Homo sapiens: one gene and its partner. The protein of the gene in region 1 interacts with the protein of each later gene in a biochemical or structural test. Each region holds a gene or a part of one and is shown in the gene's direction. Other genes may lie near its edges.

The links.
Region 2: the proteins of PTP4A2 (region 1) and DUSP22 form a complex in vitro, tested with the Homo sapiens proteins (one large-scale study listed by BioGRID).

The regions. Positions count from the first base shown.
Region 1 is NC_000001.11:31,931,869-31,935,368, reverse strand, and holds part of PTP4A2 (protein tyrosine phosphatase type IVA 2), read left to right. Parts: intron 1-3,500.
Region 2 is NC_000006.12:330,487-333,986, forward strand, and holds part of DUSP22 (dual specificity protein phosphatase 22), read left to right. Parts: intron 1-3,500. UniProt on the Homo sapiens protein: Dual specificity phosphatase; can dephosphorylate both phosphotyrosine and phosphoserine or phosphothreonine residues. Activates the JNK signaling pathway.

The DNA.
Region 1 (3,500 bases):
AGATGCTGACTGGAGGCTCTTTGGGGCCTAAGCTAGGCTTTTATGTGGGAGGAGATTATGCCTTGAAACTCTCTTGGGGCCCCGGGGTGTGTGCTTTGAGACAGTTTTTATGAGGCACCTGGGATATGTCTGCGTGAGGGAAGTCTGATTAAAGAAATGCAGCAGCGTCTTATGTTTTTTATTTTTTGGAAAAAGAGGAGAGTATATTTATTGGGGCCAAGAGTGAACTAGAACTTACCACTGTATCAAAGTTTCTCTGTTGAGCTGTGTGGGACACTTAAATCAGAAGAAGTGAGAAAATACACGTGAAAGCACTTTGTTAATTATAAATTGAACTACAGATTCAAAGTATTATTACCACTAAGATCTTTCTACTAAGGCAACAGATTTTGTAGCTGGAAAAGGCTGGCATTTTAGAACACCTTTATAGATGAAAAATAGTTTTGAACTGCTGAACGGGGTATTTTCTGACTCAGAACAGCAAAAGTCAGGCCACTCCCTCTGTGAGTCAGTCAAGTAAAATTTAATTTGAACGAACCAAATTTATAGGCAGAAACCATTTACAACATCATTGAACTTTGTAGCACTAGGAAGAGTAAATGTTTGAATACTTTTGTGTATAGCTTTAAAAAACAGTATGAGAGCCCCATATATAGTTGACTTGAAAAAAGTTTCAAACAAGGTAAATTGGATTTATTTTTCTTTAGAATTAACTTTTTATTCATTTTGTCCTATAAAGGTAGTATTTCCTTATGCAGTAATTAAGGAACACTTTACAATTTTCAGACACAAAGTTGAAATTTAGTAGGGATTTATTTTACAGGATTTGACTATACTTTTTCCTTTTTGTTGTAATGTGGGGGTTGGTAACCACTGAAGCCTAGAAAACGAATGTATTTACAAATAAGATGGAGAGGAGCAGGTGCATACATTTTTAGCTGTTGCTCTTGGTCTTGGAAGAATGAAGCTTAAGTTTTTGTGAAACTAAGTTTGGTTGATTTATTTGGGTGCTATTCCATCAACTATATTTGTTGAATAGAAGATGGGATCTTTAAAATTTTGCTTAAGAATCAGGATCCATAGTCTTTTTTGTTTGTTTTGGTTTTTTTTAAGACGGAGTTTTGCCCTTGTTGCCCAGGCTGGAGTGCAGTGGTGCAATCTTGGCTCACTGCAGCCTGCGCCTCCTGGGTTCAAGCGATTCTCCTGCCTCAGCCTCCTGAGTAGCTGGATTACCGGCACACGCCACCACGCCCAGCTAATTTTTTGTGTTTTTAGTGGAGATGAGGTTTCATAATGTTGGCCAGGCTGGTCTTGAACTCCTGACTTCAGGTGATCTACCTGCCTCGGCCTCCCAAAGTGCAGGGATTACAGGCATGAGCCACCGCGCGGCCCAGGATCCATAGTTTTAACATGGTGGACTTAGTTATGTTTATCGAATAGGGTGATGGTAGAGATCTTGGGGTACTGGTAAAGTTCAATATTACCCTTTCAGGGTTTAGGTTTCCACATTCCTTTCTTACGCCAAATCATGTATTGTCTCATTTGAAACTCAATAATCCTGTAAGTAGTATTCTTTTAGCTTTACAGATAAGGAAATTTATTTATAGATTGATTGTTGTTGGGTTTTGTTTTATTTTGTTTTCTTCCAGACAGAGTCTTACTCTGTTGCCCAGGCTGGAGTGCAGTGGTGCAACCTCAGCTCACTGCAGCCTCCACCTCCTAGGTTTAAGCGATTGTCCTGCCTCAGCTGGTATTATAGGCGTGCGCCACCACGCCCAGCTAATTTTTGTATTTTTAGTAGAGACAGGGTTTCGCTATGTTGCCCAGGCTGGTCCCGAACCCCTGAGCTCAGGCGTTGAGTTGCTGGCCTCAGCCTCCCAAAGTACTGGGATTTGATTATTAAATCCCAGGTTTTAGAATCTAAGTTAAAGATTATCAATAAATAGATAGCAGTGAATAATTTTTTTTTTCCTTTTAGGGGCTTAAAGTACTTAAATCTCTGTTGAACAGTGGATACCACCAGTTATAATTACTTTGGGAGATGGTGATTTGAGTCTCTTAATCTGTGAAATATTAGAAAAGTCTTGGCTAGGCACAGTGGCTCATTCTGGGAGGCAGACACGGGAGGATCACTTGAGGCCAGGAGTTCGAGACCAGCCTGGGCAACATAGAGACAACATCTCTACAAAAAATACAAAAACTAGCCAGGCATAGTGGTATGAACCTGTAGTTCCAGCTACTCAGGAGGCTGAAGTGGAAGGATCACTGGAGCCTGGGAGGTCAAGGCTGAAGTGAGCCGAGACTATGCCACTGCAGTCTAGCCTGGGAGACAGAGGGAGACCCTGTCTCAAAAAAAAAAAAGAAAAAATCTTTTCACCATTTTCATCTTTTGAACTATTAACTACGTATAGAGGTGTCAGTTAGCTTTCTCTCATTATCCTTTGTTTTATTGGCTGAACCTCATTCTATGGGCTCCCTTGACTCCCTGGCCACTGTCTTGGCACTTGAAGCCTTTTAGGTTGCTTAGTGTAGAGCTGAAGTGCATATTGTGTGAAAATCTTTTTGCTCTTTGGAGTGGTAGAGGTCTAGGCTCAACCAGAAACTGTCACTACCCTAGCACCTCCATGAAAGAAGCTGCACAGCAATACTAGCTGTCTGCTTTCCACAGTTCCCCATTGTGGAGTTACCAGGACTTAGGTGAGAGAATGACTCGTTTCCTGCACTGTTTGTTCAGTCAGTGTAGATTTACAGGACACAGAAATCTTTCCCAGAAAAATGACTGTGAGGAGTTGACAGATTATACAGATATTTTTTATGTGACTTGAATGTAGACGGTTTTTGTTTGCCTATACTGATTTTCTTGCCCACAGGTTATGTTAACACAGCATCCACTTCATTTTAAGTGGCCTAAACTAAATTTCATCATTTGAATATAAATTTACCTTACACAATGTTGGCTTTTTAAATTCTTGAGAATTTTAAGATTAGGCTTTTTTGTGACCCTTTCTTTGCTAGTTGAGCCTGGTTTGAAAAAATATTTTGAACATTTAGAACAGTCTTTACCTTTAGAGAAGTGGTGCATTTAATTCCTCTCATAGTATTTTTTATTTGAACTTTTAGTCTTCTCAAGACATTAATTCTTTTGGCATAAAATGTACACATGATATATTTGTTTTAGCAGATCAGATAAATTACTTTATATTTTTATTTCTGCAGTGGCCAGATATGTTGGCTGTTAACTAATGTATTGTTTGACAGGAATTCAAATTCACAATCAGGTCTGTTTTCTTCCAGTTGTCCTTTAGTTTTTGTTTAAATTTGACCAACTTTTTATTTTCCCCACCGTTTTACAGGAAACATTCACTAGGTTGTATCACCACAGTATTTGTAAATTGGATTTATATACAAATGTTGATATTTGTTGTTTTTAGTAGCAGAACAAATTGTTGTGTATTGTATTTTCCATTATTGGTGAAAAGCCTTTCATTAGGGGATGGAGT
Region 2 (3,500 bases), on another chromosome or scaffold:
ACAAGCGAGAGTTTGATCTCTTTCTTTACCAGTCGTGAAATCAGAACCTTGGCCCTGCTTTTCAGGGACCTGCCTCCGTATCGTTTTAAGTGTAATCTTTAGTTTCAGGCCCAAAGAAAGGTAAAAACCTTACTTTTGGTGGTTACTATACTTGTTGAAACAGAAAACTGAAAAGTATTTAGAACTTTTGAGAAGATGGACTCAGGCAGCTCTAAGCTCTGGTTTGAAGAGCCGCTGGAAAACCTTCTGAACTTTCTTCTCCTCCAAGTGACGTCTGTTGTTTCTTTCAAAACCTAAACACAAAACCTTCACTAGAAAGCTGTCCTTAGCAGATCCCCCATCTCTCCTGCCTCTTTGCAGCATCTTCCAAATTTTTACATCACGTGGTTTTATACCGGTTGTTCTATACTAATTGTTTTATACATGCTGCTTGGCGTTAGTAATATACGGTGTACACCTGGTCCCCTCAACACAGGTAGAGACTGTTCCTTACTTCTTCCCCCTTTTCCTCTCCTGGTACTCACTTCGTCATGTTACGCCACTTAAAATGCCATCATCGCTGCTCTTTCTTTGTCCTCATAGAAATCATGACGGTCTTGAAGCAAACACAGAGCCCATTTTTCTTAACTGAGCTTGTTTTTGTATTTCAGTGTACTCGAGATTGAAGCACCGTAACTTGACGTTTAATAGCCTCATAAAACTGTGATGTTAATTGGCTTTCCACCAATCCACTGTTTTGGAACATCGTGGAAAGTGCTGAATTCTTATTTATTTAGTGAGACTTTTATTGCTACAGGAAGACAACCCATTTTATCTTTACTTTTTCAAATATTAGAGGTAGTATGAGGGAGTGAATACCTTACAGCAAACACTGTACTAATGGAAACATTGCTGTTATCTTCATTACTTACAAATTTTTCAGATTGTTCTAGAATTTTTATTGCTTTTTTTTTAACCTCCAAGTTTGTTATACTTTCCATAATTTATCTAAACTTATCCTGTCCTTTATTTCTATTTCTGTAAACTTCAAAACCGGAGAGTGGTCCTGTCTTGAGGACCTATTTGGTGAAACCATCTATTCCACATCACATTAAAACATTTGCAGAACTTATTCATTAGTACTAGGATACTTTTAAGTGGGCCAGCTTTCTTGTGGCACTGGGGGACTCATGCTGCTTTCTGAATTAGTAATTAACTGTCATGAATTGTACACATGTGCAGGTATCTGAAGCTGTTCTAAGGTAACTCAAATTCTGTAGTCTGTGGCTTGGGAGAGACTTTTCATGCTTTGTTAATAACTAAACCAAGATAAATAGATGTTCTTAGGTGGCGAGCAGCTGAACCTTTTTGACAGTTTTGACTCCTTCCTTGACTGAGTTTGCATATTCTTATTGTGGATCACGCCGACTGGCTCTCAGCTGCGTCCTGTTGCAGTGGCCAGGAGGGACGCTGGTGTCCCTTGAGCATGTGTGGGTGGCTTGCTGTTTGCATGGTGTGGGCTGAAGCCCAGCTCTCGTTTCGTGGTCACTGGCACAAATGATGGTGCTTTACAGTATTTTTCTTTCCTTGCACTCATCTGGCAGTGTGATCTTTGTGTTCATTGTTCTCATCCTCTGTCTCATCACTCTGCAGACATTTCAGTGAGTGCCTGCTGTGTGCCGGGCACCCTTGCAGGGAAGCTTGTTATCATTGCTGTTGTCATTCTGTCTTCAACAGAATATAATCTTGACTCAGGTTTTCTATTTTTATCTGTCCTGCCTTAGCAGCAGGTGGTCCCCAAATTGTGGTTGGGAGCCATTTTGTTCCTCTTCAGAGGATTCACAGATGGGAGGCTGCAGCTCCACACGCCCACCCCAGCGACTGTGGGCAGGGGCCAGCATGGCCAAGAGCTGCCTCCTCATCCTGGTGGTTCCCAGATGGAGAGATAGCCTTTGCCGTCTTCCTGTGGGTAGATTCTCGTGCCCACCTGACAAGGTGCTCCTGCCTCATGGGACCAGCCTGAGTTGGTCCTTTTGCTCATCGGGTGCCACAAAGGGGAACACAACCACACATGGAGACTGCCCATAGGAAGCACAATACTGTCCAGTCCCACGGCTGGTATTTATAGCCAGCAAAGAGCTATTCAGCAGACCCTCTGTCCATTCTCTTCCTGTCCTTCTTTTTTTTTTTTTTTCTTTCCTCTTGATATATAGACTAGGCTGATTTTAGATTCTGCTGGAATAAAGTGGCTGTCAGTCAACATCTGGGGGACGCCGGCATTTCCATCTCGTCTTAAGCTTCCTTGCCAGATGGAAGTCGCTGACACTGAAGATGGCACTAGAAGGGAAGGTGGGAACTTGAGGCTCCTTCTGGTCTGTCTGGAGGTGCTGGTCTCCAAGGAGCGTGGAGGGAGAGTGTGGGAGGAAAGGATTTCACAAGCTTCTGGACTGATCGACTGCCAACTCTCACTTAAGAGTAAAAGGAAAGAAGTGAATGAGTCATTTCAATGGTGGCTGCAGGAGGTGATCAATGTATGTGCATCTATACCAACAAGCTTGTTTGGCCTCCACGAAGGAAAGGACTGAAATTACTTTTAACAATAATACTTCCTTTTCCGTTTGTTTTCCCTTGAAGTCCGAGCTGTAATACCACTCTAGGTTTGAAGATACTTTCAGTGTTCCCAGCAGAGCACAGCCCACAAGCCCAGGAGAAATGAGGACAGAGACAGGAGGAGGCAACTGGGGATAACAAAGTGAAGGCAAAGGAGGGAGAAGCTGCTGCCTCACTTTCCTCTTCCACCAGCAGATTCTAAATTAACCCTTGGCATGGTTGAAGCCCATTTGGTCTTAAGTGAGATGTTCCCATGTGGATAAACAGCAATAAAGTTCATCTCCTTCAAGACCCAAAAGGGCCTTTATTGGAAGGTGTAAAGATTGATTTAAAGCTGGAAACAAAATGTACAGAAACTGTGAGGGAGAAAACGTTTTTGATTCAAAGCATACAGAAACTGTGAGGGGAAAGATGTTTTTCTGACCCCTCATCATTGTGGATGAGGCAAGAGGGAATTCTCTCACTTAGGTGTTAGTTGCAGTGAACAGATCCTGCTCTGACTCAGTTTCAGCAGGAAACAGCTTTTACTAAGAGAGACTGAAAGCTCATGGTTCCCTCAGAATAGATGGAGAACAGGTTTTAGGCTGAAGTTCAGGAGTGATCCCCAGAAAACTGGCCCCAAGCTCAGCGCCCACTTTGCCCCGAGCCAGCCCACCCCTGCCCCACCTGCCCCGCAAAGAGCATGTGCTCTGCCCCCGCCCTGCGCCCACGAAGCCCACGTGTGCTTCCCGGATCCCACTCAGTAGCTGCCGATCCGACTCCTGAGGGCCAGGTGGGGAGTCCCTAATCGCGAGGGAGGTTGGGACATGAAGTGTGTCTGGTGCCTGTATTGGAAAAGTAGGACTCACAATGTCAGGGGCTATTAAAATGTGTAGGAGGTGTGGAAGGATTAGGGGCAGCTACACATTTAG